3 separate regions of the Homo sapiens genome follow, and regions 1 and 3 are each linked to region 2. Evidence: fine-mapped expression QTL. A gene starts in region 2. Each other region holds a variant in brackets. All regions are shown on one strand. Distances are from middle to middle. Region 1 has its middle 33 kb from the start of ZNF469. Region 2 holds the start of APRT (adenine phosphoribosyltransferase). Region 3 overlaps GALNS (galactosamine (N-acetyl)-6-sulfatase).

The links. PIP is the estimated chance that this variant, and not a neighbour inherited with it, causes the effect. A credible set is the group of variants that fine-mapping cannot tell apart.
Region 1: its variant is the best candidate, but not a certain one, in a credible set for the expression of APRT in putamen (GTEx, PIP 0.50).
Region 3: its variant is the best candidate, but not a certain one, in a credible set for the expression of APRT in lung (TOPMed, PIP 0.65).

The regions. Positions count from the first base shown.
Region 1 is chr16:88,345,460-88,353,628 of GRCh38, forward strand. It overlaps a transcript of ZNF469 not described here. Among named protein-coding and RNA genes, the nearest start is that of ZNF469, 33 kb to the right of the region's middle. RefSeq lists an enhancer at 4,297-5,264. The variant C/T (reference allele first, on the strand shown) is at 3,802.
Region 2 is chr16:88,807,053-88,815,220 of GRCh38, forward strand. It overlaps APRT (adenine phosphoribosyltransferase), which reads right to left and starts at 4,876. Exons shown (of 5, transcript NM_000485.3): 1 at 4,768-4,876; 2 at 4,498-4,604; 3 at 3,371-3,504; 4 at 3,018-3,096; 5 at 2,287-2,788. The coding sequence starts at 4,847. The coding sequence ends at 2,646. It overlaps CDT1 (chromatin licensing and DNA replication factor 1), which reads left to right. Exons shown (of 10, transcript NM_030928.4): 8 at 1-151; 9 at 229-430; 10 at 1,063-2,206. The coding sequence ends at 1,226. GALNS (galactosamine (N-acetyl)-6-sulfatase) reads right to left here. Exons shown (of 14, transcript NM_000512.5): 14 at 6,682-7,473. The coding sequence ends at 7,387. RefSeq lists enhancers at 1-302, 3,210-3,745, 5,251-5,935, 5,936-6,619 and silencers at 4,629-5,028, 5,279-5,538.
Region 3 is chr16:88,845,458-88,853,626 of GRCh38, forward strand. All of the region lies in intron 1 of GALNS (galactosamine (N-acetyl)-6-sulfatase), which reads right to left. Among named protein-coding and RNA genes, the nearest start is that of GALNS, 7.4 kb to the right of the region's middle. RefSeq lists an enhancer at 4,717-4,886. The variant T/C (reference allele first, on the strand shown) is at 4,179.

The DNA of each region.
Region 1 (8,169 bases), 460 kb before region 2:
AAACGTTGGGTAGGTGACACCAGGAGCATGGGATCTGCACCAGGGCCCCTCTGTGGTCACTCACCATGAGATGTGGGCACGTCACTGCCCTCTGTAAGACGAGAGGCCTCTGCAGGCTGGCATGGCAGAACCCACACCTGGGCAGCTGTCCCCTCTGCCCGTGGGGTCGCCACGGGGTCCATTTCACACAAGCCCAGAGGGAGCCTCTGGCTCACCATGCAGGGAAGGGCGCTTTCCAAAGCCTTGCCTGCTTCCACCAAAACACTGGCTCCAGCTCTCCTCACGTGGATGGAACTCCCCCGGACTGGAAGAAGGAGGGTTTTACGAGAGTCAGCTTTTCATAGGGGAGAATGCTTGCCAGCCCGCCCGCCAGGCCCCACCGAGGCTGCCAGAGGTGACCTTCAGGCTTCAGCAACTCTGCCCTTCATCCAGAAGGATCTAGACCTGCTCCCTCGTCGAATATCACTACAATGACCTGGCATCGCATCACCCTGGAAGGACCAGAGGAAAATGGCGCCATCTGTTCCCATTATTCTTGGCGGGGGCAGGAGCGTGAGAGGTGGGGCTCTGGACCGGGTCAGGCTGTGAGCACACCACTCAGATTTCTGGCTAAAGTGCTGAACTTCACAGCCGAGAGCATTACAAAAGAATTTTTATTCCTTTCCTACTCTTCCTCCGTGGGTGCCCGACAGATATCTCCAGGGATGGGAGTTCTCGGCTCCATCCCAGGCCCGATTCTCCAGTGGTTTCCAGGATGTGGGGACGGCCGGTGCAGGCTGCTGGGTGAGGGAGAAGCATGGTCTCTGGCCCGTTCATCTCGGGAGAACCTCTGCTGACCACGAGGCCCTGCGAGTGTGCTGGGGACCCAGCTACGCTTGTCCACTAATCACCAAAACAGACCCCGGCTCCTGGCAGAACTCGCTGGGAAACTCCAGGTCGGCTGCCCGGAGCCCCTCCCTCCCAGCCCTGGCCTGGACCTGCACATGCAGCTCCCATGCCACCTCAAAGCCACAGAGCAAACCCTACAGCAGGACCGTTGCTCCTACTCTTATTTACTTTTATTTTTTTTATTTTTTAGAGACAGGGTCTCGCGCTGTTGCCCAGGCTGGAGTGCAGTGGCACGATGTTGGCTCACCGCGGCCTGAACCTCCAGGCTCAAGCAATCCTCCTGCCTCTGCCTCCCGAGTAGCTGGGACTACAGGTGCGCACCACCACACCTGGCTAATTTTTTAATTTTTGTAGTGATGGAGTCTCGCTATGTTGCCCAGGCTGGACCTGTTCCTTCCTTTAAGAGGAAGTGGGGAGATGGGCGGCCCTGTGTGTGCGTCCCAAGCTGCTCAGGCAGCGAGCTGGCCCTGGACCTGCCCACTGCTGGACTTTCAGGTTCCCATTGTGTCCACGCTGCCACATCCTCCCTCAGACTTTCTTCAGAACCACAGAATGAAAATCGGCAGCCGGGAAGAACCAGCTGGCCTGGCCACCCTCGGGAGAAGGCCCTCGTTCCCAGGAGAGGCACACTGAGGTATTTAGCAAGAAATGTCATTCCTGCTGGTTCTGGGGGGAAGTAAGATAAATTCACAGGGAAAGAGCAGAAATGTGGTAATGTGTGAACAGGCCGTACGGCTGAGCTTGGGCGGTCTCAGCATGGTGTCACCTGTGTTGGTTTTGCTTCCCTGGGAGCAGGATGCCGGCCCTACCTCCTTCCCACCAAGCTGGGGACCCACACCTATGAGGCAATGCAGGAGGCCCCTGAACCTTTGGACGAGTGAGATCCCATGTTTTGGCTACATTCGATCCCCCAAAAGACGTCAGGGCCCCACCCCCACACCCGTGCACGGGCCCTTCTTTGGAAATAGGGGCTTTGCAGATGCTCAAGTGAAGACATGGTCATTAGGCCGGGTCCTAATTCACTAGCACTGTTATTCAAAGGTGAGATTTCCACTGAGCCGCGGGCACACCCAGAGAGACGGTCACACGTAGACACCCGGAGGAGACAGTGTCGCCAAGCCCAGGAGAGAGGCCCGGAGCAGACCCTCCCTCCTGACATCCGCAGGAACCAGCCCCACCATCTTCACTTTGGACTTCCAGCCTCCAGAACTGTGACGATAAACTCCCGTTTTAACCACACCATCTGTGATACTTGGTTATCATGGCCCCAGGAAACCCATCTGCCCCACATCCACCCCGATGTGAAGAACTGTGGGGAAGGCGGGGCCAGTCTCCTCCAATCACAGTGAAGAACCTGCACCTCACCCCTGCCTCTGGTCCTCCCATCTTCGCCTTTCCAGCCTTGGCTCAAATTCACCCCAAAGGCGTCTCAAGTCCTGGGCCACGCCCAGCACCCACCCGCCTCCTGGGACCATTGGATGTGTTTGGGCCTCCCAGGAAGATAGCAGAGTCCTGTGAGAGGTGTGCAGGGTACAGCTGGAGTAGGGGTGCCCCATGACCCCTGAGGAGGAGGATCTCAGACCAGGCAGGGCAGGGCTCTTCCCAGAGAGCTCCGCCAGGTGTCAGGAGCCCAGAGGCCCAAACGGTCTACCCTGCACCCCCACGTCCTCCTCGCTGTGGAAGCCTGGTGGGCGGAGCATGGTCGTGGTGGGCCAGGGACAGCAGCGGGTCGGAGCCTGAGTCTTCTGGGCTGGCCCACCTGCCCCTTCGCATCTGTGTGCGTCCCCTGGGGCTTCCCTGACAGCAGCAGCAGAAGCGATCCTTTCAGAGCTCTGGGGCCGGAAGTGCAAAGTCAAGGTGGCTCAGGGCCGCCTTCCTGCCTCTTCTGGCTCCTGGTGGCTGCGGGAGCTCCCTGACTTGTGGCCACATTGCTGCTGTCCCTGCCTCTGGCTTCACACTGCTGTCTCCCCTGTGCGTGCCTCTCGTTTCCCTGTCCTTGTAGGGACACCCATCATAAGATTCAGGGCCCCACCCCACTCCTGTGCGAACCCAGCTCCATGACACCAGAAAAGACTCTGGCTTCAAATAAGGCCACACCAACAGGTCCCCAGGGTTGGGACATGGGCATATCCCTCAGGGGCCACCATTGCACCTGCCTCAAGACCCCGCCACCCTCAGCCCCAGAACTGGGATGACCTGCTGATTTGCCCACACGGGGGAGCTGTACAGGGAGTGGGGGTCCAACAGTGTCCCAGTGGACCGGGTCAAACAGGTGAGGGACAGCACTGACCAGGGCCAGCCCAGGCCCTGCCCAGACCCCTGCCGTGAGACGTGGGGACCTCCTGAGGTGCCATTTGGGGGCTGGGACCTGGGTTGGATCCGGGGAGCCTGCCTCAGCCGCCCCACTGCCCTGGGACCCCAACTCTCCAGGTGAAGAGTTGAAGAAGACCTGTCGTCTCCTTCTTGAGGCCCCTGGGGCTGTCGGGGGAATGGTCACACAGGACCCCACAGGCACTCGGCATCACGCGTGGGCATGTATGTGTGTGCCTGCGTGTGTGTGGTGCACACAGCCGCTCTCCCGGGACAGGGTAGGGCTCACCACAGCCCCCACAGCCAGTCCTGAGCTGGGGACAGCATACGAGTCCTCGGCCCCTGCCTCCCACGCAGGCCCCAAGCCGACTGCGGCCTCTCTGACCATTTCCATCGCTTTACTCGGAAAGATCCACAGGCCAGCATGGCTCTGGGCGGGAGGCAGGAGGCTTCCAGCAACCTGGAAAAAGAAGCAAGCAGCCACTCGTCCCCCCTCACCAGCACCTCGGTTCCAGACACCCAGGCCGGTGCAGCCTTCCCCGACGGAGCAGGAAACTGAGGCCATGAGAGACAGACGGAGGCTTCACAGCCAAGAGGGCTGAG[C/T]GAGGCTCTACACGCACAGGTGACCTTCAGGTAGCAGCGAACACCACACACGCTGCATGGGACATGCACATGAGCACCACACACCACACACAAGTACACACATATCACACACACACACCACACACAAGGGCACACACACCAGGCACCACACACACCACACCCAAGTGCACACACCAGGCACAATACACACACCACACAAGTACGCACACCCGGCACAATACACACCATACACAAGTACACACACACTCTACACAATACACACCAACACAAGTGCATACACACCAGGCACACACCACACCCAAGTGCACACACACCAAGCACAATACACACACCACACAAGTACACACACACACCCAGCACAATACACACCAACACAAGTGCACACACAGCAGGCACAATACACACTGCACCCAAGTGCACACACACCAAGCACAATACACACACCACACAAGTACACATCCAGCACAATACACACCACACACAAGTGCACACATGCCCAGCACAATACACACCAACACAAGTGCACACACACCAGGCACATTACACACATCACAAATGCACACACACGAGGCACCATACACACCACACACAAGTGCACACACACCATGCACAATACACACCACACACTTGCACACACATCACACACAATACACACTACACACCACATACCACACAACACACGAGACACAAATACACACCATGAGCGATACATACCACACAATACACACCACAAGCACATGCAGCACGCACAGCGTACAGACCATGTGCACCCACATCACACACAGACACCCCCAGCTTCTGCCATGGCCCAGCCCGGCAGGCACGAGAAGGGCAGTTCCTCCCGCCCCCCTTGGGGCGGAGGGTGCAATCATGGAGCTGCTTTAGTAACCGAAGGTCAAACACTGTCCACGTTTAAACACAAGGCAGCCACAGCAGCTGCTCCAGGCGGATCTCCAAAGGTGTCACAGTGAGCAGCCTCCCACAGCACTGCCCTCCTGTCCCAAGGGCCCTGCCCCCCCGTCCGCTCCCCTCCCCTTGGCATGATCCACGCAGGGACCTGGATGGTGCCCACACAGGCTCCAGCACAAGCGCCACATCCCGGCACAAGGCCATGGGCACCTCCCGGCGCACCCACCTCCCTTGGCCAGAATCGCCTAGGGGAGGGCAGGGAAGCCCCACCACCAGCTCTCGCCTGGGCTGGGCCACTCACCAGCACATGACCAGGCAGGTCGCCTCCCTCTCAGAGCCTCAGTTTCCCCTCCGGAAGATGGCCAGGACCTGAATTAACAGGGGAGGCAGACCAGCCTGGACTCACGCTTAGCCTCCCTGTGGTGGGCGGAATAAGATCATGATTCCGGAACCTCACGTGGTGAAAGGGGGACGTTCAGGACGCTGAGATGGGAGAAGATCCCAGGGCTCCTGATGTCATCACCAAGCTCCTCAATGCTGAGCCAACCTCCCTCTTGGCCAGAAGTAGATGTTGATTATGGCAGCAGAGGTTAGAGACACGCGCTGCGGGCTCTGAAGGCAGAGGACCCTGAGCCCAGCAATGCAGGCCTCTAGAATTTGGAAAAGGCAAGAAACAGATTCTCCCCAAGAGAAAAGATTCTCCCCTGGAGCTTCCGGAAGGACCCAGCCCCGCCAACACCCTGATGTTCGTGGAAGCAGTGAGAGTGATTTTGGACCCTGACTTCCAGAACTGTGGAGGAATAAATGTGTGTTCCAAGCCTCCAAGTGTGTGTGGCCTGTTGCAGCAGCAAGGCGACCTGCCGCGCTCCCCCGGCGTGGCCATGTGACCCTGGACACCTGCTGTGACCTTGCTGGGCCTGTTTCCTGGTCTTCAGCATGTCGGGGTCAGTCACTCCAGGTGCTCAGGAAAGGGTGATAGGTGACAGGCAGTGTGGCCTGTCCCTGACCTCGGCACACACCCGGCCCTCGGTGGCGTAGCCAAAGGCTGGACGGCTGCCCCCTCCCACTGCTGGTCCCGGGTGCCCAGCTGCGGGTCACTGGGCTGTGTGGGTCTCCGTTTCCCCAGCCATACAATGAGGACGTTAAATGCTGGGAGTTTCTGAGACCTTCTTCTGCCCCACAGGCCTCTGTGCAGGCCTCCATCACCCCAGCCATGGGATGAGGACGTTAAATTCAGGGGATCTGAGACCTTACTCAGCCCCACAGGCCTCACATGGCACCGCCCTGGGCCTGTGGGATTGTTGTCTGACAAAACCAAAATCAAAGCACAGGTCCCAGAAAGGCCCTGACCCCTCAGGAGCAAGAGCATCCCAGGCTCCCCAGGCGGCCTGTGATGTCCCCGTGTCCTCCGCGAAAGGACAAAGGGGCCGCCGACGCTCCAATGACACTGACCAAGTCCCGTGCTGTGGCGGCCGCCCTGGGCTGTGGATCTGAGGTCCAGACGGCCCTCTGTGGAGGCCCCCACCCCCACCGCCGGCAGCAGGCCCCAGCCGGAGCTCCTCCCCCACCAGCAGGGTGCAGGGGGTTGTGCGGGGCTCCAGGGTTTGAGGCCGGGCCACGCTTTGCCACCACCCACCACCCTCTCCCCACCCTTGCTTGTCTCCACTGGGAAATGACAAGTGGTGCCGTGCTCGCTCCAGCATCTCATTTGATGTCTATAGTGGGTTTCGAAACTGGGTCACCTGGCTGGTGGAGAAACACGACGTGTCCCACGTGAGGAAGGGAGGCCCCTCCGCCCCGAGGAGAAATATGATGGTGACGCTCACCACGACACAGAGAAACCTGCAGGTGGTGCAGCCACAACAGGCCACACATGGTGGGATTCCGTTTCTAGGGAACACCCGGAACAGGCACACACAGAAAGCGGGTCCATGGGTGCGAGGGGCTGGGGGCGGGGGATGGAGAGTGACTACCCAGAGGAACAGGTTTCCTTCTAGGGTTAGGAAAAAGCTCCAAAACCAGCGAGAGGGGACGGGTGCACAATGCCATGGACAACTCACTGCCACCAAACTGCCACCGAACTGTGCCCTTTCAGATGGTGGCAGCGGTGAATTTTAGGAGTATGTATTTTGTCGCAGTAAAGAAGCTTCATGCCAACCCAGAGGAATGACAAATTTGCCTGGTGTCCTCGTGACTCATCTGAGAGAATTTCACTTATGAAACCAATAACAGAGCCAGGGCCTTTTGGAGGGTGCTGCAGGTGCACAGAGGGAGGGGTTGCCTGTGTGGAGGCTGAGCATGGTGCTGACGGGCACGGAAGGGCACACTGGGCACCATGGCTCAGCACCAGGCCACTGGGCTGCCAGGCAGGTTCCTGAAGCCCTCAGGCCTGTGTCCTTGTCTGTACAACCACAACAGGCATGGGGCCAACTTCCCAGAACTGGTAGACGGGGCCGATGGTGGGCACTTTGGTACCAAACCTGCCGTGGGAATGAGCCCTTCCCCTCCCTGGCTGGTAGCAGCCGTGGGGACGTGGCGTGGAAGATTTCGAGGCTACAGCCCCAAGGGTCTTCTCTCCCCTCTTCTCCCTCCCTAGGCAGGTCCACATCACAGGGAGATGTGGGCATATGGCTGCCCCGGCCTCACAGCTCTGATGGCTGACCCCGTCCTGCTGCATGGGCCTGACCCCTGGGCACTGCCCCAGAGCCCACCGAGTGAGACGGCTCCTCCTGGGTCCCCTCCGTTGGAGAGGCCTGGGAGGTGGGGGCAGAGAGCCAGGCCCAGCCTGGGGTGGGAGGCCAGCCAGAGAGATGTGGTTCTCAGGCCCAGCAAGTTGGGGGCGCCCAGGCAGGCCCCGGTGAGACTGCAGGGTCTGGGCAGGGAGAGACCAGGCTCAGGCTCAGGGTGGTGCCAAGCAGGAGGGAAACCCTTAGGTGGGCTGACATCCCAGGGTGGGATGGTCCAGAGAATGCTGGTCGCCTAACAGTCCTGCGGACAGTGCACCTCCGAGGCCGTAAGTCTCACTGCAGAGAGAGCGCTCCCAGGTCCAGCCCTCTCACTCGAGACGTCACAATACGCTCCCAATAATGCGGCTGGAGGGACCCTGGCTCTTTAAAACGTGAGTCTGCCATGTCTTCCTCCACGCAGGAACCACCGATGGCTTCTGCCCTCCCACTCAGAGGGCGGGACAGTGTCACTACTCCCATGCCAATGACAAGAGGCCTGTGACCCGGCGCCCACCTCCGCTTGGGGCTCAGTCCCACCCAGCTTCCCCAGCCCCACACCCTGGCCCCCTTCACGCTGTACAGAGCCACCAGCGGCTTCCTGCCCCAGGGCCTTTGCGCACAACGCCCTCCGCCAGCCTCTCGCGGCTCACTGCTGCCTGCCCAGAGAGGCTCCCGGAGCCCATTGGGTGCCTTAGGCCTTCCCTGCTCGGTGTTGCTTCAGAGCATGCGCGCG
Region 2 (8,168 bases):
GGAGAAGGCCTTGAGTCAATTGGCCCTGCGCTCTGCTGCGCCCAGCAGCCCCGGGTCTCCCAGGCCAGCACTGCCGGCTACCCCACCAGCCACCCCGCCTGCAGCCTCTCCCAGTGCTCTGAAGGGGGTGTCCCAGGATCTGCTGGAGCGGGTGAGTCGTCCCCAGTGATGGCGGGTGGGCGCCTGGTGACCTGCTGCCCACTAACCAGGTCCCGGTACCTGCTGCAGATCCGAGCCAAGGAGGCACAGAAGCAGCTGGCACAGATGACGCGGTGCCCGGAGCAGGAGCAGCGGCTGCAGCGCTTAGAACGGCTGCCTGAGCTGGCCCGCGTGCTGCGGAGCGTCTTTGTGTCCGAACGCAAGCCTGCGCTCAGCATGGAGGTGGCCTGTGCCAGGATGGTGGGCAGCTGTTGTACTATCATGAGCCCTGGTACGTGCAGGGCGGGGTGAAGGGGCGTGCAGGGTGGAATTGCCTGGTGCTGCAGCTGCCTCCCCAGCTTTCTGAGCAGAGGTGTCTGTCACTGATCTGTTCTGTTCAGATGTGCAGTGGGCGCTGGCCTCTTGCACTGGTGTGTCCTGGGCGCTCTGCCCTCCTTGGAGCCACCCCTGAGCCTCCGCCCGGCCCCTCCACACCTGCAGCCTCTGGAGGCAGCTTCCCCCTCACAGCTCTGGCCCTTTCCCTGACCACCTGCAGTCCTTGGTCAGAAGGGGCCCCACATGCACCCTCCACTGCCTCCCAGGCCTCTGGTGACCAGGCCCTGAGCACATAGGGGTCCTGACGCTACAGGGCACCTCCTGCCTCAGGGCTTTCATGGGCTGGCGGCCTCCATGCTCGGTGCCTCCTCACAGGGCCTCAACTGTAGGCCTGGCTCTCTCCGGTCACTGTTCACACCACCCAGACCTGGGCCTCTGATCAGAACCACCTCTGCCCTAAGTCCTGGTGATGGGGCCCTGAGGGCGACCAGGCAGGCACAGAGGTTGGGTGGTCAGGCTGGTTTCAAGTGCTGCCCGTGCAGGGCTGGGGCCCAGCACCAGCCTCAGTGTCCTCCTCTCCTCCCCCAGGGGAAATGGAGAAGCACCTGCTGCTCCTCTCCGAGCTGCTGCCGGACTGGCTCAGCCTCCACCGCATCCGCACCGACACCTACGTCAAGCTGGACAAGGCCGCGGACCTCGCCCACATCACTGCACGCCTGGCCCACCAGACACGTGCTGAGGAGGGGCTGTGAGCCTGGGGGCCACTGTGGACAGACGTGGGCTTCAGAAGCTCGCTGGCCTGGGCCCACCAGCATTTTCTTTTATGAACATGATACACTTTGGCCTTCCTTTCCCCAGCGCCCCTGAGGGCCAGAGGCAGATGTGGGCTGCAGGCTGCACAGCCCGAGGGTCTCTGGCTGCGGGCGGTGGGCCCCTTCATGGGGCTCACCTGGTGGATTCACATTAAACCGGTTTCTGTGGGCACCTCTGTCCTTGCTGCTGGTGGGGAAGGGAAGCCAGATCCAGCACCCCCTGGGGGGCCATCGGGAGTGTGGCTGGGGGTGAAGGGGGCTCTGTGGCAATATGGGGTTGGGTAGTGTGGGTGGCAGGCCATCCCCTCTAATCTTGGAACCTCTGAATATGGGACCTCCCACAGCAAAGGGTGACTTTTGTCATTAAGAAAGACTGGGGTGGGTGTGGTGGCTCACGCCTGTAACCCCAGCACTTTGGGAGGCCAAGGTGGGCAGATCACGAGGTCAAGAGATCGAGACCATCCTGGCGAACATGGTGAAACCCCATCTCTACTAAAAATACAAAAAATTAGCCGGGTGTGGTGGTGGGCACCTGTCGTCCCAGCTACTAGGGAGGCTGAGGCAGGAGAATGGTGTGAACCCAGGAGGCACAGCTTGCAGTGAGCGAAGATCGCACCACTGCACGCACTCCAGCCTGGGTGACAGAGCGAGACTCCGTCTCAAAAAAAAAAATTTCAAGACTGGAGAGGTGATCCTGAATTGTCCAGCTACGCCCCATGTCATCACAGGGCCTTCATGACAGGGCCAGAGCCAGCCAGCTTTGAAGACGCGGCCCTGCCCCGACACAGGCAGCCTGGAGAAGCTGGGCAGGACAAGTAGGACATCCCTGGAGCCTCCAGAAGGGACTGGCCTCTGCCCACACCTTGACTTCAGTATTTCTGACCTCCTAAACTCTAATAAAGTCATGCTTACAGCCACTAGATCTGCAGAAGAGCCCTCGCTTGCTCCCCTAGAAGATGGGCCCACATGGCCTCTTCCTGCAGTGCCTGGAGGGTTCTAGCTCCTGAGGTGAGAACCAGGACAGGTTCTGCTGGGCATCACGCCAAGCAGCACATGCCCACAGTACAGCTGAAGTCTGGTGTTGTCCTGGGGCTCCCTGCCCTGGGGAACAGGAGGACAGGAGACGGCTCTTGTGGGAAAGCTGTTTACTGCGTTCTCCCGCTGTGTGTAATTGGGTTCAGTGTGGCTGAAACACAGCTTTGCCCCAGGCTTTGGCACTTCCAGCCCCAGGAGAGGCGCTGAACCCCAGCAAAGGAATGTGTTCCCTGTGGGCAGCCGGTGCCCCTGGTCACTGCAGTTGCCCAAGGCTGATATTTCCCTGGGATCCAGCTGGAGATGTTGGGCTGGGAGGCCCTGTGGTCACTCATACTGCAGGAGAGAGAAGAAGGGTACAGGTGCCAGCTTCTCCCTGCCCTTAAGCGAGGTCAGCTCCACCAGGCTCACGCACTCCAGGACCTCAGCCTGCAGGCGGCCCAGCAGCTCACAGGCAGCGTTCATGGTTCCTGGGGATGGGAGGGTGAGGTCCCCAGTTGGCCTGGGCTGCAGAGAGCAGGTGCTCCAGGCCAGCCCCTGGGTTGGGGAGGGGAAGGCATGGGGAGAGGAAGGTGTCGGCCTGGCCACCAGGCACCCTCTGGACAACAGTAAGCTGCATCCCATGTCACACAGCGAGGTCCTGTCCCACTCCCACCAGGCCCTTGGAGCCACAGCAGTTGGCTGCGGGGAGACCCTTACCACCAGTGGCCAGCAGATCATCCACGACGACCACCCTCTGTCCTGGCTCCAGGGCGTCTTTCTGAATCTCCAGCTCAGCCTGGAGTGGGAAGTGGTGTGTGGTCCTCAGCCTCCCGCAGAAAACAGCTTTGTTGCACAGCTTGGCAGCTGCCACCCTAGACCCTGACTCCAACCCCACCTTGCTGTTACCTGGCTGTGTGAGCCCAGCCTATGTCTCAACCTCTCTGAGCTCCCAAGGCCACTGTAACCACAGCAGCTCCACTTGACACGCCTGGGAAGGCCTTTTAGAACTGGGGGAGAGTGGCCACGGTGGCCTGGCCCTGCCCTTCCTCTGGCCACCCCAGCCCTCTTACCTTCCCGTACTCCAGGGAATAGGAGGCCCACAGAGTGGGGCCTGGCAGCTTCCCCCGCTTTCGGATGAGCACGCAGCCCAGTCCAAGCTCCTGGGCCAGGGAGGGGCCAAAGAGGAAGCCTCGGGAGTCTAGGCCTGTCAGGGTAAGTGACAGGAGTGACTCGGCAGCATGGGAATCCCCAGGGGCCAGGGTTGGCCGGTGGCAAGGGGTACCTGGTTGGCTCCCAGCTGAAAGGCCAGTGACATGCACCATTTAAGGAATGTTACCCATCACCTACCCGGAGCTGCTTCCAGGTCAGAGTGCAGACCTGGGTCTGTCTTTTAAGGGACCACTTCTTAGCTGTGTGTTCCTAGGGGAGTCACCACCCCTCTCTCTGAGCTGAGCAGCCCATCTGTAACTGGGCTGGTAGAAACCTGACAGGCCTCAGCTTACTCTCAAAGGCAGCTCTGCACCAGGGCTTCTGTCTAAAAAGGGAGTCTCTCGAGGTGGCCTGAGCTGTGATGGTTGGGGGACGCTCAGGGAAACCCTGCCCCGGCCTGGCAGGAGGTCAGGGAGGGCTTCCTGCAGGAGGTGAGAAGGGAGCTCTGGCAGTGTTGTGGCTCCAGCAAGAGCTGGCGCTTTCCTCAGGGCAGTGTCCAGGGAGTGGGCTGTCACACCCTAGGAGAGGCAAGACGGCCAGGAACACTCTGTTCTCCCTGGGCCACCTCTTGGGCTCTCCCGGAGGCCTCCAGGCCTCCCTTCCCTGGGTGGGCATTCCGTGATCTTCACCAGGGAAGGCCTGGCTCGTGGCAGGCGCTCAATACCAGCTCGCAGAAGGAACAAGAAGCAAGGCAGCTGGGCCCTGTGGATTCAGCTTGGGCACTCCAGGGAGACCAACTGACCCGGCAACTCGGTCACGCCTGTCCTGGGCTGGGGACCCGGAACCTGCGGGAAGGACGCCTGCACAGCGCGGCGGCCTCGGGGGCTCAATCTCACAACCCTTCCCGGGCGACCCAAGCACGGCGCCCGTCCCGGCGCCCCCTGAAGCACCCCAAAGGCCCTCCCCCAAGCAGACGCGCAGAGCCCACGTGCTGCCCTCGGCGCGCGCAGAGGCGGAAGCGCCCTAGATGCGGCCACTGGGCACTCGCCTGCGATGTAGTCGATGCGGCCCCCGTGGGTCGCCTTCAGGTGTCGCGCCAGGAGGCCGATGGCGGCGCGGAAGGAGGCGGGGTCCTTCAGGACGGGCGAGATGTCCCTGGACCCAAGGACAGGCCTGGTGACGCCGGGGCCGAAGGAGGGCAGGGCCCCGGGGGCGAAAGACGAGGGTTCCCGCCCCGCCCGCCCGGAGGTCGCGGGCCACGCGCTCCCATCCGTAGGCCCGCAGGTCGGGGCGCCACGAGGGCGGCCTGTGCGTGCACCTGAATACCACGCCTGGGGTGGGGAAGTCGGGGAAGCTGCGGATCCGCTGCTCAACCAGCTGCAGCTCGGAGTCGGCCATGGCCGCGTGCGAAGAGCCAGCGGCAGCCCGAGCGCGCCTGCGCGGGGACGGGCGGGACCGCCACGAGGGGTGGGGCATCCCCGGAGGGCGGAGCGTGGGTGAGGGGCGGGGCATCCGTCGCCGGAAGCCTGTACCGTATTTCATGGACTCCTAGGCGCCATCGATTTTAAGACGCGCTCGCATTCCACGCACCACTGAGCAGAACGTTCGAACCGGACAAAAGTGCGAGTCAAGGCGCCCTTCCTTGTCTCGGGCTACGCTTCTGACTGCAGCCAGGCAGCTGTGGGCCGGGGCCTTGGCGGCTGGAGGAGGGGCGTGAGCTGGTCTCGCCCACGCACCTGGCGCGCGTACGGGCCGCGCCCTTTCTCCTTTATTGGCCGAGATCCCCACGCTGCGCGCGGGAGGCTGGCGCGCGGGGTGGAGAAGGGCGTGAGGAAGCGGTCCAAGTAGCAGGAGGGCGGTGCAGGGCCCGGAGGGAGCAGCCCAGGGCGGAGGCGGCGGGCCTGGGCTGGACCGGCCGGGGGCGCTGGCCTCTCGCGGATGGGCCCTGCCGTTGAGGCGGCTCTTCCCCGCCCGGACCCGGGGGAGGGAGGCCGGAAGGTGTGGCCAGGCCAGGGCGCGCATCCGCGAGGGCAGAAGCCCTTCTGTCCGCCTGCAGAGGCCAGGTGACCCCTTAGCCTTGGGGTGGGGAGCTGTGAACCCCCTGGCCGCCCGAGGACTGGTACCCAGGGGGTTGTGTGAGGCATAACTCCCCCCAAACACAATTTCCTTTCAAGAAAATCCCCAGAGCTAAAATGCCTTGTGCTCTATTCCAAGACTTTTCTTCATTTCGCAACTTTTTTTTGAGAAGGACTCTCGCTCTGTCGCCCAGGATGGAGCACAGTGGCGCCATCTGGGCTCACTGCAAGCTCCACCTCCTGGGTTCCGGCCATTCTCCCGCCTCAGCCTCCCGAGTAGCTGGGACTACAGGAGCCCGCCACCACGCCCTGCTAATTTTTTGTATTTTTAGTAGAGACGCAGTTTCACTGTGTTAGCCAGGATGGTCTCGATCTCCTGACCCCGTGATCTGCCCGCTTCGGCCTCCCAAAGTGCCGGGATTACAGGCGTGAGCCACCGCGCCCGGCCCATCATTTCGCAACTTTTACAATTCAGCTTTGGCCTGGCAGTTACTGCAGAAGGGAAAACCCACTCAGTGGAAGGCAGCCCCCAGGAGCCTTCGGAGGGGGAGGCCGGAGGCTGCATGCGGCTGCTGGGGCCCCGGTTCCAGGGCGGGTGGGGGACCCATCGTCTGATGCCAAGGGGCGTGGTAGGGGCGGCTGCCTCGCAGTGTGCGGTGGTCAGGGCTGGCAAGGCCTGGGGCCTGGGCTCCAGACCCCTAGGGAAGGTGGAAATGGAGGACCCTGACATCCTCACGTCCCCGGGGAAGCTGCCACATGAGCCGGCCCCACCGGTCCAAGTGTGTGAGCTACACTTCAGCCGTCCACGTCCAGCCCAGGAGGCCTCCGCCTTCCCCTTCCTTGTTCCTGATTCTGTCTCCCAGATGGCCCGAGGGGGGCCTGGGAAGGCGTGGGGTGGGGGGGTACTGGAGGAGGGGCCTGGGGAGGGTTCAACACAGAATTGGCCCTGTGGCTTCCTTCAACCCGGGCTGTTGGGCTGGCGTGGGAACAGCAAGGAGCCCCGAGTCCTGCCCTTCAACAACCAATGTGGCGCTGGCCTCTGGAGGAGGCCGGCCGGGAGGCAGCGGGAGCTGGGCACCTGATTCTTGGCAGCTGCTGAGAAGGTGTGAAAGGAAAATAAATCTCCGGACCCCAAAATCACTCAGCCAAGAGAAAAATCAAGCTGGGAATTAGGCAAACCTGCCTCCCGTTTTATTTCTAAATAACATAGTTACAATGATAAGAAGCTACACGCCTCCCTCATAATTAGCGTCCAGGGAAATTCCTTGTGGACAAAGGACAGACGGAACTGGAAGTCATCCCTCTGGGGCTCCCCTGAGACAAACGCTTATATGATTGCCCCGTTCCCTTACTGTTTACATAAAAATGCGGATTCACTGGGCCAGACTCAATCGTGTATTCAGTGGAAGGCTGACTGAACCAATGTACGCCATACACATACTGATCTTGTGTCTCCCTAAGATGTATAAAGGCAAACTGTATCCCCAGCCACCTCAGGCACCTGTTGTCAGGACCTCCTGAGGCTGTCACAGGTGCATCCTTAACCTTGGCAAAATAAACTGAGACTGGTCTCAGATATTTGGGGTTCACAAAGGCGTGAGACGGCAGGGTCCTGAGGTCTGAGGCGCCGTGGGCGAGGAGGAGGGTCCTGAAATCTGAGGCGCCGTGGGCGAGGAGGAGGGCCAAGCACACGCCAGGGTCAGGTCCTGGGCAGGTGGAATTGTGCAGTCCCCCTGCGTCTGCAGGTGCTGTCTGTCTGGCTTGGGCAGGGTTGGGGGAGGACCGAGGCCAGAGCCATCCTTCCTCCAGGCACTTGCAGGGCCAACCGGAGATTCTAGGCCTGGCCTGAGTCTGCGCAGGTGCTAGTGGGACCAGAGGCACTTCTTGGGAATGGATTCTGGAGGTGTCAGACACTTCCCTAACTTTTCACAGCCCGGAGGTGCCCAGTTCTGGGAAATGAAAATTGAGAAAAAGAACATGCAGTTATTCAAGCTCTTCTGGACCCAGCAGCAGCGGGCATTTTGTTGTTGCTGTTCTGAGACAGTCTCACTCTGTCACCCAGGCTGGAGTTCAGTGGCGCGATCTTGGCTCACTGCAACCTCTGCCTTCCGGGTTCAAGAGATTCTCCTGCCTCAGCCTCCTGAGTGAGTAGCTGCTGGGATTACAGGCACGCGCCACCACGCCTGGCTAATTTTTGTATTTTTAGTAGAGACGGAGTTTCACCATCTTGACCAGGCTGGTCTTGAACTCCTGACCTCGTGATCCACCTGCCTTGGCCTCCCAAGGTGCTGGGATTACAGGTGTGAGCCACCACGCCCAACCATTTTTGTATTTTTGGTAGAGACAAGGGTTCCCCAAGTTGGCCAGGCTGGTCTCAAACTTCTGACCTCAGGTGATCCACCTGCCTTGGCCTCCCAAAGTGCTGGGATTATAGGCGTGAGCCACCGCGCTTGGCCTCGAGCAGTTTTGATGTGTCCCCTGCCCAGGTCAACCCCGGACCCCAACCAATTGGCCTCAGTGTGGGGACCACCTCGGTCCAGGTGGGCAGCTACACAGACGCTCCCCAGGAATCATGGGAACTTGGGAGATGGCACCCTCTTGACTCGGCCTCTCAGCTCTGAAGGCTGCCATTGGAGAAATGAGA
Region 3 (8,169 bases), 38 kb after region 2:
CAATCATGGGGCTGGGTGCGGTGGCTCACGCCTGTAATCCTAGTACTTTGGGAGGCCGAGGTAGGCGGATCACAAGGTTAGGAGTTCGAGACCAGCCTGGCCAATATGATGAAACCCAGTCTCTACTAAAAACACAAGAATTAGCTGGGCATGGTGGCGGGCACCTGTACCAGCTACTTGGGAGGCTGAGGCAGGAGAATCGCTTCAACCCGGGAGGCGGAGGTTGCAGTGAGCCGAGATTGTGCCACCGCACTCCAGCCTGGGTGACAGAGCAAGACTCCGTCTCAAAAAAAAAAAAAGGGCATGAGAGGATCACTTAAAGCCAGGAGTTCGAGACCAGCCTGGACAACACAGCAAGACTCCAACTCTAAAAAAAAAAAAAAAGCCAAGTGTGGTGGTGTGTACCTGTGGTCCCAACTACTCAGGAGGCTGAGGTAGGAGGATCACTTGAGGCCAGGAGGTTGAGGCTGCCGTGAGCCATGATCACACCACAGCACTCCAGCCTGGGCAACAGGGTGAGACACTCTCACTAAACAAACAAACAAAAAAAGATCATGGCCCAGCAATTCCACTTGTAGGAGTTTATCCTAAGAAAATAATTACAGCTATGTATAACCCATTATGCCAATTTAAAATTGTGGTTGAGATACTGGGAACAGAAATTTGGTTAAATAAATCACAGTTCATCTGTGTTAATGGGTGGAGCTGTATCCCCAAAAGTTATGCTGAAATCATGGCCCCAGTGTAGCTCAGCATGTGACCTTAGTTAGAAACAGGGTTGCCGCAGATATGATTCAGTAAGATGAGGTCACTAACATGGGGGTGGACCCTCATCCCACACACTGCAGTCCTTATAGGAGACAGGGCGAAGGTGGCCGTGTGGCAATGGGGTCAGAGGCGGGAGACACACAGCCATGGGCTCCGGACGGCTGGGGGCCACCAGAAGCTGCAGGGGCAAGAGGTCCCTTGCAGGTTTCCGAGGGAGCGAGGTCCTGCCCACACCTTGAGCTCAGACTTCCGGCCTCCAGACCGAGACAGAATGCGTTTCTGGCTTTTTTTTTTTTTTTTTTTTTTTTGAGACGAAGTCTTGCTGTTGTCGCCCAGGCTGGAGGGCACAATCTCGACTCACTGCAACCTTTGCCTGCACGATCTCGGCTCACGGCAACCTTTGCCTCTCGGGTTCAAGCGATTACTCCTGCCTCAGCCTCCCAAGTAGCTGGGATTATAGGCGCCCTCCATCATGCTCAGCTAGTTTTTGTATTTTTAGTAGAGACGGGGTTTCGCCATGTTGGCCAGGCTGGTCTCGAACTCCTGACCTCCGGTGATCTGCCTGCCTTGGCCTCCCAAAGTGCTGGGATTACAGGTGTGAGCACTGTGCCCGGCCGTGTTTCTGTTCTTTTAAGCTCCCGACCCCCGTGTGTGGTCCCAGGAGGCTCCTGGGATGGGTGAGATGGGGGTGTGGCCAGGGGGTTACTGAGAAGCCCACTTAGTGTGAACAGACATTCACGACACCTGGTTGTGTGGACACCTGTGGACACACCTGGACGGCAGGGAGGGAAAACCTCTTAGTAAAGCAAGTATCTGCAGCCCAGCCATGTCTGGCAGCCAAAGCCTTCAGGAGGAACGCAAACAGCTCCACCCGCAGCTCTTAAGCACACTGGAGACCACCGATGGTTCTTTTTTTAAGTCTCTGAAATACTTTTCTCTCTCGTTGACCAGCCTGGGCAACAAGGTGAGACCCCATCTCTATAAAAAATCAAAAAATCAGCTGGGCATGGTGGCACACACCTGTAATCCCAGCTACTTGGGAGGCTGAGGCAGGAGAATCCCCTGAGCTCAGGAGGCAGAGGCTGCAGTGAGCTGAGATCGCGCCACGGCAGTCCAGCCTAGGTAACAGACAGAGAACCCTGTCTCAAAAAAATAAAAAACAAAAACCTGCCACTTTTCTCCAAATTCACCCCATCCAGCCTCCTCCTGTCACAAGTGGCTCCAGGACTCACCCACAGAGTAGGACTGCCACCTGCATGGACAGCAGGGACCTTGAGGAGGGCTGTGCCTGGAGGCCGAGTGGGGCTCACCTGCCCATCGGGCCCTTGTAAAGTTTCCACCATTTCAAATGACCCCAAGACAGGCTGCATGGGCCCTGGTGCTCCAAGAGCCGGAGAGAGGCTCACTTTGGTCTCTCCACAGTTCACCACGACAGGGACTAGAGTCTGATCGCTGATTGTCTAAGGTTGATTTTTACCAAACAAAACAAAACATTAAAAGTGAACTCACTGGAAACTGGAGCCCTCACACACCATGTAAGAACGTGACACGCAGCACCTGGTGAGAGGTCCGGCAGCGCCACGCAGGGTGGCCACGCCGCCCGGCAGCGCCTCCCTGGTACACGCCCAACAGAACTGAAAAGTGTGTCCACGTGGAAACCTGTGCATGAACCAACACCCACAGCGGCTCGCTCCCTGGCAGCCAAGCTGGAAACACCCGGATGCCCATCCATGGGTGGAAGCCTCAGCCACACGTGGTCCCTCCACACTGTGGACCATGACTCAGCCACGAAAAGGAATGGAGTCCTCACACAGGCTGTGTGTGTGAAGCCCAAAAACCCTGTGTGAGGGGAAAATAGACACAAGGCCCATGAGCCGTAAGATTCCATTCACCGGACACGTCAGAAAAGGCAGATCCTTAGAGACAGAAAGGGGAGCGGGTCGGCCAGGGGCTTCGGGGAGCACAAGGGAGTGACCCCCATCAGGGCTGGGGCTTCCTTCCGTGGTGACAAAGATGATGTGACGATGTGTGGTGGCAGGACGACTCTGAGAACACACTAAAAATGACCCGCACACTTTCACCAGCGAATTCCGTCTCAGTAAAGCGGCTATAAAAGAATGAAAGGCCGGGCGCGGTGGTTCACGCCTGTAATCCCAGCACTTTGGGAGGCCGAGGCAGGTGGATCACGAGGTGGTCAGGAGATCGAGACCATCCTTGCTAACACAGTGAAACCCCGTCTCTACCAAAAATACAAAAAATTAGCCAGGCGTGGTTGCAGGCGCCTGTGGTCCCAGCTACTCGGGAGGCTGAGGCAGGACAGCCTGGGTGACAGTGAGACTCCGTCTGAAAAAAAAAAAAAAAGGAAGTGCGGGCATCCTGGTTTTCTGCAGATGGACCAGGGGCTCCCCTGACACTGCTGGGTCGGGGCCGGTGGGCGTTTGACTCGCTGGGTCCTGGTAAGTCAAAGAAGCAGCAGCCTCGGGGCCTGTGTGAAGTGACAGGGGTCTGAACAGAGGGGAAGCCCTCACCGGGGGCGGGGGTGGCAGCGTGCTGACTGGGAACGGCTGCTGGAGGGATGGGCGCTGGGCCCCGGGGACCGCGGGAGGACAGTGGGCCGCTCTGGGCGCACGTGGGTGGCTGGACATCCAGGTCTGCGTGGTCACACCTTGGTCTTTGTCTGGATGCAATGATCCATTTCCCCGGTGGACGGCAGGCTACATGGCCCCTGCCTGTAAGGCTCAGCTTGGCAGGGTGGCCGCTCCTTGCCTCAGCCCCTCCTAACGTGTGGAGTCCCAGAGCTGGGCCAGGTCTGGGCTTTTTCCTCTCAAAGGCCCTCCATGTCTCATGGGACACAATTCTGTTTGGCCCTTTTAGCTTTGGATCCCTTTTGAGATGGTTTATTTTTTTGAGACAGGGTCTCACTCTGACAAACAGGCTGAAGTACAGTGGCGCGATCTTGGCTCACTGCAACCTCTGCCTTCCGGGCTCAGGTGATCCTCCCACCTCAGCCTCCTGAGTAGCTGGGACTACAGGCACATGCCACCATGCCCAGTTAATTATTATTATCATTATTTTTTGAGATGGAGTCTCACTCTGTCACCCAGGTTGGAGTGCAGTGGCGTGGTCTTGGCTCACTGCAACCTCCGGCTCTTGGGTTCAAGCAATTCGCCTGCCTCAGCCTCCTGAGTAGCTGGAATTATAGGCACCCACCACCAAGCTCATCTAATTTTTGTATTTTTTTTATAGAGATGGGGTTTCACCATGTTGGCCAGGCTGGTCTTGAATACTGACCTCAGGTGATCCACCTGCCTCAGCCTCCCAAAGTGCTGGGATTACAGGTGTGAACCACCGTGTCAGGCCAACTTTTTTGTATTTTTGGTAGAGATGGAGTTTTGCCACGTTGCCCAGGC[T/C]GGTCTTGAGTGAACTGAGCTCAAGCAGTCCACCCGCCTCCACCTCCCAAAGTGCTGAGATCCCAGGTGTGAGCCACCACGCCCAGCCCTGAGATGGTTTATTTTGAAGTCACTGAAATGGCTTTTCTGAGGACAATGGAGGCTGGAATGAAAGGAGGACCTAGAGAGAGGTGTCCCCTGAAGCTGATGAGGAAGAAAGGGAGGTGGGAGGACAGGGGGCAGGACGCCCGCAGAGCTGCTCATGGGCTGAGAAGGGACCTTGGGCTCAGTGGCACCTAGTCACAGTGGGCGAATGCGCCCATGTCAGGGTGAGGTGCATCCCACTGAGGCAGCAGAAACCTGCAGTGCAGGCTGGGACGGTACAGCTCCCTGAGGCCAGCCTGAGGGGGACTGGCCACACACGCCCAAAGCTCCTTGCCCTCCACCTCCCCGAGTGCAGATTCATCCTCTCAGGTGGCTTCTGCACTTCCTGCTGTCTCCAGTCCAGGTGGGAGAGTACAGAATGGCAGGTGGGCCGGGGGCACAAGGCCTGGGATGGGAGGGAGCAGTATGTTTCGCCCGTTACACTGTCTGCCCATGCCCAGGACCACTGCTGGGCTCCCTTCGGGCTGGGAGTGAGGCCGCACATCTGAATACTGGGTGCCATGTGCCCGACCCTCCCTGCAGGCTGCGTCCTGAGGCTTCCCGAGGCGGGTCTGGCCTCCCCAGAAGGTCGGCAGTCAGCAGAGCTGCGTCCGGATCTGCTTGTGCTCACCTGGGTCATCCTCCTACCTGTTCCAGGCCACAAATAACATGAATGGATGCAGCGGAAAATGCTGTAAAGGGAGTGGGCTCCACGCTCATCACTCACCAGAAAATACTGCGGGGAGGAGTCCCAGGGCTTGAGGGAGGGGGCTCCACGCTCACCACTGACTCAGAAGATACCGCAAGGGAGCACTCTCGCTGGGAGGAGTCCCAGGTCTTGGCGACAGTCCTACTCACTGCCATGACTTACAACGGGGAGGGCATCAGCCAGGGGAGAAGGTGCGGGCGGGGCCGGGGAGACCAGCCGCAGCGTGGAACCCTCCCCAGGCGGAGCCACACGGGACGCTCGGGCTGCGAGCACAGGTGCGGGATGCTGACGGGGAAGCTGTGCGAGACTCAGTTCCCAGGGCTTTTGCCTAGGCTGGCAGTGCGGCCGCCTCTGCCTGGCATGTGCCGAGACTCTTTATGCCCAGAAGGAGGATGCTGGGCATAAATCGTGGCATGTGCAAAAACAGTGTGGCAAGGTGAGCTGCTCCTATCAGCGAACAGCGGGGGGACCTCCTGTTCCCAGACGCCAGCCGAGGGCAAAAACCTCCCACACATGTGCCTTCTGACCAGCCGAGGGCAACGTCCCACACGTGGGCCTTCTGAGGACAGCGTCCCAGGCTGCTGGGCCAGCTCTCATCTGCTGACCCTGTTCTTTCATTATTTATCGGCGCCTTTCTTGGCTATGAAAAGCAGGTGTGGACAGCCTCCCTGCAGAGTGAGCAGGTTACCATTGAACATCTAAAACCCCCACAGGGCACCACGGGCAGGAACCACCTTTCTTCTCTCCCTTAAAAGTCCTAAAAGGGCTGGATCCAGTGGTTCACGTCTGTTATCCCAACACTTTGGGAGGCTGAGGAGGGAGGATCGCTTGAGCTCAGGAAGTCAAGACCAACCTGGGTCTCACAGACAGACACTGTCACTAAAAAAAACTTTTTTTTTAATTAGCCGGGTGTGGGGATTCCGTTCCAACATGGCTGAATAGGAACAGCTCCGGGCTGCAGCTCCCAGCGTGATTGACGCAGAAGACGGCGATTTCTGCATTTCCAACTGAGGTGCCTGGTTCATCCTACTGGGACTGGTTGGACAGTGAGTGCAGCCCATGGAGGGTGAGCCGAAGCAGGGTGGGGCATCGCCTCACTCAGGAAGTGCGAGGGGTTGGGGGATTTCCCTTTCCTAGCCAAGGGAAGCCGTGACAGACTGCACCTGGAAAATCAGGACACTCCCGCCCAAATAGTGCGCTTTTCCAACGGTCTTAGCTAACGACACACCAGGAGATTATATCCCGGGCCTGGCTCGGAGGGTCTCATGCCCACGGAGCCTTGCTCACTGCTAGCACAGCAGTCTGAGATCCACCTGCGAGGTGGCAGCCTGCCTGGGGAGGGGCGTCCGCCATTGCTGAGGCTTGAGTAGGTAAACAAAGCGGCAGGGAAGCTCGAACCGGGCAGAGCCCACCGCAGCTCTGCAAAGCCTGCTGCCTCTGTAGACCCCACCTCTAGGAGCAGGGAATAGCTGAACAAAAGGCAGCAGAAACTTCGGCAGACTTAAACGTCCCCGTCTGACAGCTCTGAAGAGAGCAGTGGTTCTCCCGGCACAGTGTTTGAGCTCTGAGAACGGACACATTGCCTCCTCAAGTGGGTCCCTGACCCCCGTGTAGCCTAACTGGGAGATACTTCCCAGTAGGGGCCCACTGACACCTCATACAGGCAGGTGCCCCTCTGGGACAAAGCTTCCAGAAGAAGGATCAGGCAGCAATATTTACTATTCTGCAATAGTTGCTGTTCTGCAGCCTCCACTGGTGATACCCAGGCAAACAGGGTCTGGAGTGGACCTTCAGCAAACTCCAACAGACCTGCAGCTGAGGGACCTGACTCTTATAAGGAAAATTAACAAACAGAAAGGAATAGCATCAACATCAACAAAAAGGACATCTACGCCAAAACCCCATCTTTAGGCCACCAGCATCAAAGACCAAAGGCAGATAAAACCACAAAGATGGGGAGAAACCAGAGCAGAAAAGCTGAAAATTCTAAAAACCAGAGCACCTCTTCTCCTCCAAAGGATCGCAGCTCCTCGCCAGCAAGGGAACAAAGCTGGACAGAGAATGACTCTGACGAGCTGACAGAAGTAGGCTTCAGAAAGTCGGTAATAACCAACTTCTCCGAACTAGAGGAAGATGTTTGAATCCATGGTAAGGAAGCTAAAAACCTTGAAAAAAGATGAGACGAATGGCTAACTAGAATCAACAGTGTAGAGAAGACCTTAGATGACCTGATGGAGCTGAAAACCATGGCACCAGAACTACGTGACGCATGCACAAGCTTCAGTAGCCGATTCGATCTAGTGGAAGAAAGGGTATCAGTGATTGAAGATCAAATTAATTAGCCGAGTGTGGTGATGGGCGGCTATAATCCCAGCTACTCAGGAGGCTGAGGCAGGAAAATTGCTTGAGCCCAGTAGTTTGAGGCTGCAGTGAGCTGTGATCGAGCTACTGCACTCCAGCCTGGGTGACAGAGCCAGACCTTGTCTCAAAAAAAAAGTCCTGGCTGGGTGTGGTGGCTCATGCCTGTAATCCCAGCACTTTGGGAGGCTGAGGCAGGCAGATCACCTGAGGTCAGGAGTTTCAGGCCAGACTGGCCAATATGGTGAAACCCCGTCTCCACTAGAAATACAAAAATTAGCTGGGCACGGTGGTGGGAGCCTGTAGTCCCAGCTACTCGGGAGGCTGAGGCAGGAGAATTGCTTGAACCTGGGAGACGGAGGTTGCAGTGAGCTGAGATCACACCACTGCAATCCAGCCTGGGTGACCAGAGTGAGACTCCATCTCAAAAAAAAAAAAAAAAAAAAAAAAGGCCTAAAAGCCCCCAAATGATTGTCCACGTTCAGCGAGCACAGCTGTGAGCCATGGATCAGTATCCTTCAGAATTTCAGAGTTTTAAGAAACGCAGTTTCCATTCCTACTGGTTGCTATGGGATTATTATGAAGACGAGCAGGCCAGTGCTTGTCTGTTTCAAACGAGGGGCACTGAGCAACCCTCCCCGGACTCTGGTGGCTCGACGAGGCTGCTGTGGCAACAGGAGCTGGCCTGGGTGGCCCTGACTCTCCACTTCCTCTGTGGTCAGGGCTGACCCTCCTTAACCCTATTTTCCAAATAAGGAGTGGAGACACAGAGTGCTGCTCGCCCTGGGAGGCAGGAGCTGT